Homo sapiens: one gene and its partners. The protein of the gene in region 2 purifies or fractionates together with the protein of the main gene of each other region. This does not show direct contact. Each region holds a gene or a part of one and is shown on either strand. Other genes may lie near its edges.

Region 1 (3,558 bases), on a different chromosome or scaffold from region 2:
GAATGAATCATAGTAAGATACATAAACAATTTTACAAAATTTAGCAAGACTGTTTCCTTTTGTTGCCCTCTGCAACCATTACTATATCAAACTGAAGCAAATGATCAAGTCAATGGATAAAGGCCAGTCAAATCTAAGTGTGTTTCACTAAGTACATAAAACGATGGCTTCAATGAATTGCACAAGAATTCCAGGTGTCCACTGCAGTTTCCAGGTTCAGTCCTATAACCCACTTTACTGAAGTTTCCCTTATGGTGGTGGCTCTAATGGGAAAGGCCTGTCAGTCAACAGAACAATTAACTTGAGCAGAAACAAATTAAAACATGAGTTATATTAAGAATTAACACCGAAGTTCACTGAAGGTAAAGGATGTGATTTTTCTATCACCACCAGTAGGGTCTATTCCTGAATCACTTGATGTTTTTCTTCTATGATGATGGGAAGGTCCAAAATGATTCTCTCTGCTGCACACCGTACATGGTTGCCATGCTACGCGTTTCAATGGTGAATAGTGCAAGAACAAATACATACTTTTTGTACTGTTGTTCCCAGTACTTGGGATTTTTGCAACATTCAAAGCAGCTCAAGTAGAAAAGAAAAAGTTCAAACCAGTCACCAGATCCAAAATTAGCATTTTATTCAGAACGCTGGGGTCAGAGGTGTATCATTTATATTCTGGTACACAATACAGAGGCAAAGCTGTTGTCAGAAGTCTCTCCAGTTTAAAAGCTTTTTTTTTTCCATTTTTTTTTTAAAAAAACACACACTTAGTAGTGCCACCAGTGTCAGGCCACCCCTTTCTTTCCTTTCCTTTTTTTTTTTTTTTGGTACAAATTATGTAAAACATTTGTGCTAAGAACTTTTCTCCCTCCCCAAACCAAAAAGAAAATAAAAAATAAAAAAATTAAAAAAATTAAAAATTGAGTATTCTAACTACAGCTCAACAATTGAATCAAATGTCACTGTTTTGTAAATACTTTATCCATAACGAAAGATATAAACATGCAAAAAACCTGAATCCATAGTCCAAATAATACATACACATGTTCTGAAGTTTCTGCACTTCTCCATAGACTATGCCAATAAAACATTATGTACACATACTATTTTTACAGTGAAGTGGAAAAATACAGAAATAAAAAAGTGTACATGGATTAAGACCAAAATGTGTCTAACATTCTAGTTTATGAAAAAATTCAATTTTGCTACAAATTGGTGATATGAAAACTCCCTTTATTTGCAACCAGCTGAGTAAGTTTTAAGATTTTAGTGAAAAAAAAAAAAACAAACTAAAGTCTAAAACTAGAAGTAATGTACATTTTCCAATCTCATGGTCTCATCCCCCAAGATAATAAAATCGCTCCATGAGTTTTTTTGTTTGTTTAATTTTGTATTTTAATAAAAGCAAATGCAATGTAACAAAAGCGTGTTGAAGCATATCATGGTTTAACTTACTGCTCCCACCACAAAATATTTTGTCTTTTACTTATCGTTTCAGAAATCAGTACCATTAAAGCCTTAAACAGAAAACTAATTCCAATCTGAAAAAGGTACAAAAAGGCACATAAAATCCCAGTGCTTCTGTACTGTAAAATTCAAGTGTAACTGAGCTCAGTGTTTTTCCAAACAGTATGGATCACTGATATTCCCTCTGAGCCCAAATTGGTTTGCAGCCTATGCCAAAGCCTCCAGCAAGCACTGTGCTAGTAGACTACAAAGTTAAAGCCTAGCTTCTGAATGCTTTTTGGGAATATCAGTTGAAATTGTTTGTACTTGTCCAAAAACCAAGTTCACCCTGAAGTTCAGTCATCACCTCCACCATACATGTCAGCAAGTTTCTTGAACCGTGGCCCCCAGTCGTTCAGGTAATCATAGTCCTGCTCACCACCACTACTTGAGGAATTAAGGGAGCTCAAGGACCCAGCAGTGGAGCCACTGCCTTCATAGTCAAACACTAACAGGGAGTCATATGGTGGAGCTGTGGGGTCATTGTCAGCCGCTTTAAGGCCCTGCAATTTGGAAACACAAAGAATGAAAGAATTAAGAGAGGGTTACACTTTACAAAACCACAAGCAGATCCTAATGAATTCACGGGATCAAACAAACACTTGTTTGTAAATTTCCATTTACATACCATATTTTCAACACATGGAAAAGGGAGATATAACCATTTGAAAGTTGGACAAAAATTAACTTATATCTTTCCGGTGCAAAGAAACAACCCTAAGCAGTCAAGCTCAGGGAGGCCAAGGCTTATGAAGGGAGGGGGTTAACTGGGTAATAAGTTGGACAGGTGGCAGAAATGAATGGCCCTGCTTGAGGCAGAGAAGAAAGGATCTTAAATAACATAATATATAGAGCAGCATTGCTAGATTAAATTTAAAAAAAGCACCTCACTGAAATACAAGAGACACACAAATGAGTACCATGTGGTCCATGTCCCTCCACAGGCTTACAGTCTAGCATAACAGGTATTACTACTGTGTGAAGCAAATGACAAGTGACAAAACTATGAAGTCAAAGCAAAAGCCATCAGGTTGTGGGGGAAAAAAATTCACATCAGCATTAAGAGCTAGGAGTTCAAAGAGAAAGTAGCATTGTATTTGACCTCATTTTGGAAGGACATCAAAGGAAGACTGAAGACAGGTCAGATGTGATTACTACATAAAGGGAGGTACTCAGAAAATCATTTATGTGACTAACATAGCATAAAATGTGGAATTAATTAATTGTAAACTGGTATTTTAAAAAATAGGGTATCTTCTAACTTCCAAAAAATCCTAGAAATGTCATAATCCAATATCTGTACACGGTATAAATATTGAAAAGAGGAGGACTCCTGTCAATCTAAAATAACATGCGTTATCTGGTTCTTATAAAGAATTTTAAGAAAAAAGAAACAAGGAAATAACTACTATCTATATTTGTAACTTTTGTAAGCAGATGCTTTTTAATATACAATTAGAGTCTCTATGCTCTGCAAAACTTCTAAGGATTTAGTATTAGGTCCTCTGGTATATTTTCTACTTAATTTTTTCCCCCAATTCCATTCTAGTACTCCTAGATACACTAACATTAGTCTCCAAACAATCGTTTGCTTTTTCCACACTCTACTTGTCAAATGCTAGTTGGCTTATATGGCCTCACCTATCTAAGATGTGTCACAGACAGTCCTACCCTTGAGAGATCAAGCCTGCCAATACACATGCATTTTATGAGCGCATACATGGGTTTTTATGAGCATGTGTTCACCTATCCTTTCAAGGTTACAAAGGAGAAACAGGGAAGAAGAGCAAAAAAATTAAGGTCAGAATCAGTATGGTGTAGTGGTTAAGAGATCAGACTGTGAGATGACACCTTAGCTCTCCCCAGTACTAGCTGTGGGACCTCCGCTTAACCTCATCTACAACTGTAATCATAATAATAGGACTATTATAAAGACCAAATGCAATAAAGGGACCCGAGGTCTCACCACAGTGACTGGCACATGTAGAGCTCAATGAATATTAGTTAGTATTTTTAAAAAATTTAAGTTTTGAGAAAAATGTCCTGCCTTGG
Region 2 (2,773 bases):
CGACTAGGGAATTACATTCACTACATTCTACTGGAAGTAACTCTTGCATAGTGACCCAGCTTAAACAAGCACATTTTCACTAACAGTTCTATTATAAAATATATAGACATATGTAAGGGAATACTGATGCATTTATACAGAAAGTTGGTTAACACAGTATTGTATTCTATTCCACTGCGATTTCTGGGAAACTAACATTTCTTCACTTCTGCTGGAATTGCTTGACTCTATAGAAAGAGAATAATTTTCTGTTTCTTTCCCCAAAGGGATGCACAATGCACAAAGGAGCAGTGATCCTTGAAAGCTTGACTCAAGCTATGAAACACACTTACATAATTATTGTTTTTTAATGTGAAGAGCCTTCCAAAGGCAGCTGCAAATGTCCTTGTCACGCAGAGGCAGCCGTGGTCAGGAGCTCTGCTGACCAACTTGGCTTTAGGTGCCTATTTACAAGGGTGACATTCTGAAAAAGGTATCAGGAAATTTCAGGAAAAAAACCCAAAACAAACAAACAAAAAAAAACAAAAAACAAACAAACAAAAAAAAACCCTTTTCTTCCAAAGTAAGTCTTTTCTGACACTCACCCCTGCAGGCCGTTGCCTATGCTGGAGATGGGGGATGACTAGTTTCGGCGTCATGGCACCATAAGCGTGTCCCTGTGCTAATCCAACAGACTGGAGAGCTCCCGCCAAGACAGGCTCCCTGCAGCCCTCCCCTTTCTTTCTTCTGAAAATGTGTATCTTTCTCTTCAAGCCACCATTTAATGTCTTATTTTGTTCCTACTCCGAGAAACAGTCAAAAAGAGCCCATAGTGGCCATTTTATAAATTAATGTAATTTTAAAGCAGTGGGACATGAGGCATTATTTGTCTCTCTGGCCTTGGTTCCTTTTCTGCATACTGCCGTAATTCATCAAGACCTTACACTCCACCACGTCCATAACACTATGACTAGTGCCTAGCAAACTGAACATCACTCGTGCCCACGTGCAGATACAAAGTCAACAGGTCACATTACCACTTCTGTGGAAGGCACTCTTGTAAAATCCGTCAGCCAGGTCTGTTATTATAAACATGGGTCACAACTGCAGTTGATTTCAAAGTGTTCTCAGGAAGTCTGATAATACAGGCCAGACGTGGTGGCTCACGCCTGTAATCCTCGCACTTTGGGAGGCGGAGGCGGGTGGATCACTTGAGGTCAGGAGTTCAAAACCAGCCTGAAACCTTGTCTCTAATAAAAATACAAGACAATTAGCTGGACGTGGTGGCAGGTGCCTGTAGTCCCAGCTACTCAGGAGGCTGAGGCGGGAGAATTGCTTGAACCTGGGAGGCGGAGGTTGCAGTGAGCCAAGATCGAGCCATTGCACTCCAGCCTGGATGACAGCAAGACTCCATCTCAAAAAACAAACAAAAAAAAGTCTGAGAATACACTATTGAAAGACCATTTTCCACCTGAAAACCCAGCTGGTGGCAACCTTCAACGGGCCCCTGCATTCCCTCCTAGCCGAAGCAGCCAAGAGATGGGATCCTTTGCATGAGGAGCTCTTGCTGTCACTATAGCTGTTAGAAAACATGGAAGGACCCCTCTGCCCTCCAGGTGACTGAATACTATGCAAAACAAGGTTGTTTCCTACCGAGGGGGAGGAAGGAATGGGGAAGAAAACATTTAAGGCATAAATAATATAAAAGGGCACACGTTTTAAGATACATTCATATGACATTACTACTACAAAAAAATAAATAATGATTTTCTCTGATTTGAATTAAGGTCCTTCACACAGTTCGCTCCCAGGCCTGTTGTGTGCAGTTACCGGCTTGAAGTTGGAACATGACTGGTTGTTTGCATGTCCTCAGGTTTCCCGGGGCTGCTGAAGGACCTCTGTCGGGCTGTCTAAAGGAATGCCAGGTGGAGACCACATTGTCTTCTCAGCACAGCCCTCGGGGACAGGTGGCAAAATAAGAGCATTCCAACTTACAATGTTGATCTCTGTTTCTGAATGGGCACAGCTGTCTCCTGAAACACAGCAGGGTTTGGGAGCATTATCAAATGATAAAGGCTGATTTTTACAAAGCAGTCTAAAAACTTCTTCACACTTTGAGCCAAGAAGAAAGAAAAACGAGCATAAATAGAACCTGGTTTGTGTGTGGTTTGAATTTGAGGGCGACAGAAGGTTTAAAAGGTTTAAAATAAAGTTGAGCTCTCATGAGAAGCTATACAATTCACCTGAGAAGTAAAGCAACCCCTTAAAAGCCCTAAAATAACCACCTGAAAGAAAGGTTACAACTCCAGAACCAACTCAAATCAAAAAGGGGCTCATGTTCACAAAATGCATTCTTCCAGCAAGTCTTCTGCTACCCTACGAATGAAATCAAAGCCTATTTCCAAATAGATTTTCCAAAGTGTGATGGGATTGACAGCCTGAGATGAAGGACATGAGTAATAACAGAATTTCAAAGAATCCTTTATCTTGAGTCCTATCTTTTCCTGAAGGACCCAGCACCCCACCCAGTCTCCCAAGAAATATGTAAACTAATCATAGAGGGGAAACTCTGAAAGCATCACCTTCCCATACACAGCTCTTAGCTAACTGAAGATGATCTGGAATCCTAAGGTTGATCATGCCTTCCTGACCTCTGCTGAACTCTGCTGGATCTTCTGAGCCATCAGAGCTGACGTCATTTACAATGTCCTGACAGCAGGTACGCTGAGTAGGGACTGGTTCCACATTGTCCTTGACGCTCTCCTCCGGCAACTGGCCACAATCAGGGACTGCG
Region 3 (4,266 bases), on a different chromosome or scaffold from region 2:
GCTGCTGTGTAAGAAAGCTCTGCACACACTGGGCGCTTGCTGCAGTCTACAAACACCACTGCGAGGTGGGAATGGGGTTTACGAACACCACTGCGAGACGGGAACGAGGAGCGGTTCTGGGGCCGACCTTGCACTCCTGCTCCCCCGGTTTTCCAAGGAAGGGTGCTACGAGATTCTAGGAACACGCTTGGTGGCGTGTGGGTGGGTTTGCCTGGGAAGAGAGTGCGAAGGCCCCTCAAGCTTCTCAGGCTTCAACCCCTCCCCCAGGCTGGAATCTGGGGCCACCCCGTTCCTGGATGGCCAGGCATGCCAGGAATGGCCCCAGCTGTTGGCCTGGCCCAGAGCGGCTGGAGCATCTTCCCTGGGCCCCACCCTCTCTAGCTGCTGCGGGCTTCAGAGAAGGGATGTGGAAGAAGAGGCATGGAGGCAGCTGTCCCCTCCAAAGCACGGTGTCTGGGGCTGTCCTTCCACTGTGGGAAGAACAGTGGCCTGGGAGCCACTTCCCTTCTTGGCCTTGGTCACAGTCACCCGAGCTAAGAGCCCCTGCCTGGCCCCCAGGGTGCTGCTGACTGTCTCCCAGAGACCAAGGGGCTCCCAAAACCCAGATGCAGAAGTGGGGACCTTCCCAGCAGGCTGGGGTTCTCTGTGAGTCAAGTGTGCTGCCCCAGACCTCAGCCGCCTCCCAGCTGGGGTGGGGTCCCAGGTGTAGAACCAGCAACTAGGGATGGTGTAGGTGCAGCAGGGCTGAGAGGGGCCAGTTCTGAAGACACCCTCCGGGTGGGGCTGAGTGAGCTCAGCAATCAGAGGTGGCCCGAGCAGGGGAGCAACCCCTCACTTGTAGAAGGCCCTGATGGGCCCACGCTGCCTGCCTGGGGGCTCACCAGGAGGCGGCCCAGGACCCCAAGGCTGCCCAGGAGAGCTCACAGTCCTGAAAGCTGAGCTGCTGGGGGAGGGGCAGGCAGGGTCCTGACACTGACATATTTTGCCTCACAGTGGAGTGAATTTGAGCCTTGGCGATAGTCCCCTTGCCATCTGGCCCCCACCTCCACCACCTCCCCCAGCCTCCAGCTGTCGGGGGAGGGGGTTATTGTCCCCCAGCCCTGGGCGAGAAAAGAAGGGACAGTGAGAGGGAAGGCTTCTGAGGAGGGAGAGGTCCTGCCTGCCTCCCCACCTGCCACAGAGCCCCCTGGGGCCTTTTGAAAGGCAGACACTCCCAAATCCAAAGGAAGAGGTCTGGAGGAATGTTTTCACAGGCGCCAGCCTCCCCACCACCATGCCCTGGGTTGGGGTGCCAGGGAAGAAACCCTGTCCCCAGAGCAGGTGGGGAAGGGCCCTGGAGGCATGGAGCCCCCCAGCCTGCGCTCCCCGGCAGAGGGCTGAGGGGTGGAGGGCCGGGGGGTGAGCACGCATGCTGAGCCACTGTCTCCCCCCACCACTGTCTCCAGATGGGGGAGTCGGGGGTGGCAGGAGCCGTGGTGCCCTCAGGGGCAGCTGCTGGAGGGTCTGGCTGGCCAGGCGCCTGGTCAGCTGCCAGGGGCTGAAATTGGAGCCAGCTGGAGCTGGGAGGCCTGTGGGAATGAGGGGACTCAGGAAGCCCCTTCAGTGGGGGCTGGGAAAGGAGTGGCTTCCCTTACTCACTGTGTCCAGCACTCCCTGACCACCCCAGGACCACAAGAGCAATGAATACTGTGAGCACCGCTAAGCCCTTTATGTGCATTCTCTCTCGAATTGGCCAGAGAGAGGCTGCCCTCTTGTACCCAGTGACGTCCCAACCACAGCCGGCCATGCCCCAGCCCAGCCCAGTCCCTGGGGGCTGAAGCCACTGAGGCCACATCCTCCATGTCTAGGTCCCCCTAGGGTGTGAGGAGACGTGGCTCCAGCTAGGCAGTACCCATGTCGGGTGTGGGGGGCTGAGGCCTGGGCTTCCTTCCACTCTGGCTTGCTCCCACGTTGGAGAGACCACGGTGCCAGCAGTCCAGACAAGATTTTTAGGGGCAGAGTCCAGCAGCCTCTGGGGGCTGGGCCCCCAGGCCTGATCACCCCAGGCAGCTGCGGCAGGGTCCCAGGTGAAGCCCAGGAACAGAGCCCCCAGGGCTGCCACACGCCACTCTGCAAGGCCGTGTGTTGCGACCTGGCTCGGGCTGGGCCCTCCCAATCGAGAAGTAGCCGTGAGGGTGAGTTCCTGGGGGCAGGGCCTGCAGCCACCCCTGCTGGCCAGGAACTTGGGGTGGGGGGTTTGGACAAAACCCAAGACTAGCCAGGGGTCCTGTGCCCACCGCAGGGAGTCCCTATAGAAACCTGGCCCCCAGCCCCCCAGAGAGGGGCACTCCTGCCGCTCCCCCCTCTCTCTGCTCCACTCAAGACTGGCAACCCCCAGACCCCGGCAGCGGTTCCTCCAAAGAGAGGGCACGGCTACCTGGGTGGCCCCTGCCTGGGGTCCCTGACCCCAGCAGCACTCTGCAGTCCTGGGGGTGATTCCACCAGATGGAGTGTTTGGTTACACTCACTCCCCACAACCCCTGGGGTGCTGCCCCCAGCCCAGGGACCCACCCGGAGCCACTCCGCTCACAGGCCCCCAAAGGCGACCAGGGCCAGTGGTTCTGGGGGAGACCTGTGCGGCTGCAGTTGAAGACACTGTCCCGCAGCGTCGAGGGAGGCAGCGGGGACCCCCGCAGGTGCCGATGCCTTACCTGGGCCAACAGCCCGAGGACGAGGAGGAACGCGGCGTCCATCGGGGCCGAGGCGGGAGCCGGGCCGGAGTGCACCCGCGACCCGAAGAAGCGCGTCCAGGCTGAGTGACAGCGCAAGTGCGCGGGGCGGGCCAGGGCCAGAGACAGAGACAGCACGTGTGAGGGGGGCGGGGAGGGGGCGGGGCAAGGGCTGAGTGACAGCACGAAGGAGGCCTCTGACGGGCCGAGGGCCGGCCTGGGCAGGGCTAAGGCTGAGTGACAGCGTGTTGGCAGGCGGGTGGGGCGGAGCCTCTGGCGAGCTAGGGCGGGGCGCAGGCTGAGTGATAGCCCGTGTGCGAGTGGGGCAGGCGGGGCGGGGCCGGGGCCGAGGGCTGAGTGACAGCGCAGGTGCGCCGGCGGGGCGGTGACCGCACGAGGCTGGTGGGGCGGAGCCAGAGGAGGATGGGGCGGGCGGGGCGGGGCCGAGGGCTGAGTGACACCTTGTGAGAGTGCGGGGTGGGGCCGGGGTGGGGCCGGGGCGGGGCCGAGGGCTGAGTGATAGCTTTTGCGGGGTTCCGGCGGGCAGGGCCAGGGCTAGGTCGGAGATACCCCGGCTTGCTGCGTTGGGAGCAGAGCCAGAGGCCAGGCTGTGGGGAAGGCAGGGTGGGTGCGTCCGGGTCAGGGACCAGCTGGGATTCCTGGCTTCTTCATTTCCTGCTCCTTGGGCCCGGCTCGCCCCTGCTCCAGGGAATCTGCATTGTAGTCCCTGCCGGGGGACACCTCTTGAGCACTTCCTTGGGCCCCTCGCCTCTCTGGCTGCGTCTCCTGCGCCTCCCCGCATCCCACTGAACGCTAGGCCCGCCTTCCACGCACCTCCTCGCGACCTCATTTTGCCCAGCTCTTATTCAGTATGGAACTGCTCTGGTTCACACGCCTCTGATACCAGCGTGGCTCGTAGGACACCCCCAATTCCCCCAGTCCACGCACCTCCTCCAGCATCCCCTTGTTCCCCGAGGCCCCCTGCCTGGAGCACCTTCCTTCCTACAGAACTCCTTCTCATCATCCCTCAACACCCAAGGTCAACGCTGCCGCCTCCTGGAGCCTCCTTGCCACCTCGGCCAGAAGCCCTCCCTCCTGTTGACTGTGGCACCTGTTCTCCCCTTCGAGACCCCGCCCCCTGGGATGGTGTGGGTGTGGCTCAACACCTGCACAGGCCCAGCGCACGGTCAGGAAGGTCCTGGAGAGGGGGTGGAGGGGGCTGGAGGCAGGAGGATCCTTTCTTTTGAGCAGGCAGGGTGGGGAGTGGGGGTTGCCGACCAGCCCAGGGCCGGGCCGGGGAGCCCGTTCCTCTCTGTGATGGGAGCAGACCCGGTACCTCTGCTCTCCTGTCGACGGCGGGTGGCTGTGCAGGTGCAGGCAGCATCTGTGCACTTGGCCTGCTTGAAAGGAGGCCAGGCTGCCCGGGAGGCTCAGGCCAGGACTGTCCCTAGCGCTCACTGCTCCAAGATGAGAGAGGGCAGGGAGTCCATCTCCAGACTGGGAGGCCTCTGGGGCTGGGGTGTAGCCTGTTGGGGACCACCATCCTGCCTCTGTGGTC

Evidence for each region.
Region 1: the proteins of CDON (region 2) and CDH2 purify together in Homo sapiens (affinity purification with western blotting, with the first as the bait; one study listed by BioGRID). This does not show direct contact.
Region 3: the proteins of CDON (region 2) and CDH15 purify together in Homo sapiens (affinity purification with western blotting, with the first as the bait; one study listed by BioGRID). This does not show direct contact.

The regions. Positions count from the first base shown.
Region 1 is NC_000018.10:27,950,351-27,953,908, forward strand, and holds the end of CDH2 (cadherin-2 isoform 1 preproprotein), read right to left. Parts: intron 2,010-3,558; coding exon 1,803-2,009; 3' UTR 616-1,802; downstream 1-615. UniProt on the Homo sapiens protein: Calcium-dependent cell adhesion protein; preferentially mediates homotypic cell-cell adhesion by dimerization with a CDH2 chain from another cell. Cadherins may thus contribute to the sorting of heterogeneous cell types.
Region 2 is NC_000011.10:125,959,094-125,961,866, forward strand, and holds part of CDON (cell adhesion molecule-related/down-regulated by oncogenes isoform 2 precursor), read right to left. Parts: coding exon 2,631-2,773; coding exon of another isoform or gene 2,562-2,630; intron 2,013-2,561; coding exon 1,849-2,012; 3' UTR 1-1,848. UniProt on the Homo sapiens protein: Component of a cell-surface receptor complex that mediates cell-cell interactions between muscle precursor cells. Promotes differentiation of myogenic cells.
Region 3 is NC_000016.10:89,170,298-89,174,563, reverse strand, and holds the start of CDH15 (cadherin-15 preproprotein), read right to left. Parts: upstream 2,817-4,266; 5' UTR 2,733-2,816; coding exon 2,691-2,732; intron 1-2,690. UniProt on the Homo sapiens protein: Cadherins are calcium-dependent cell adhesion proteins. They preferentially interact with themselves in a homophilic manner in connecting cells; cadherins may thus contribute to the sorting of heterogeneous cell types.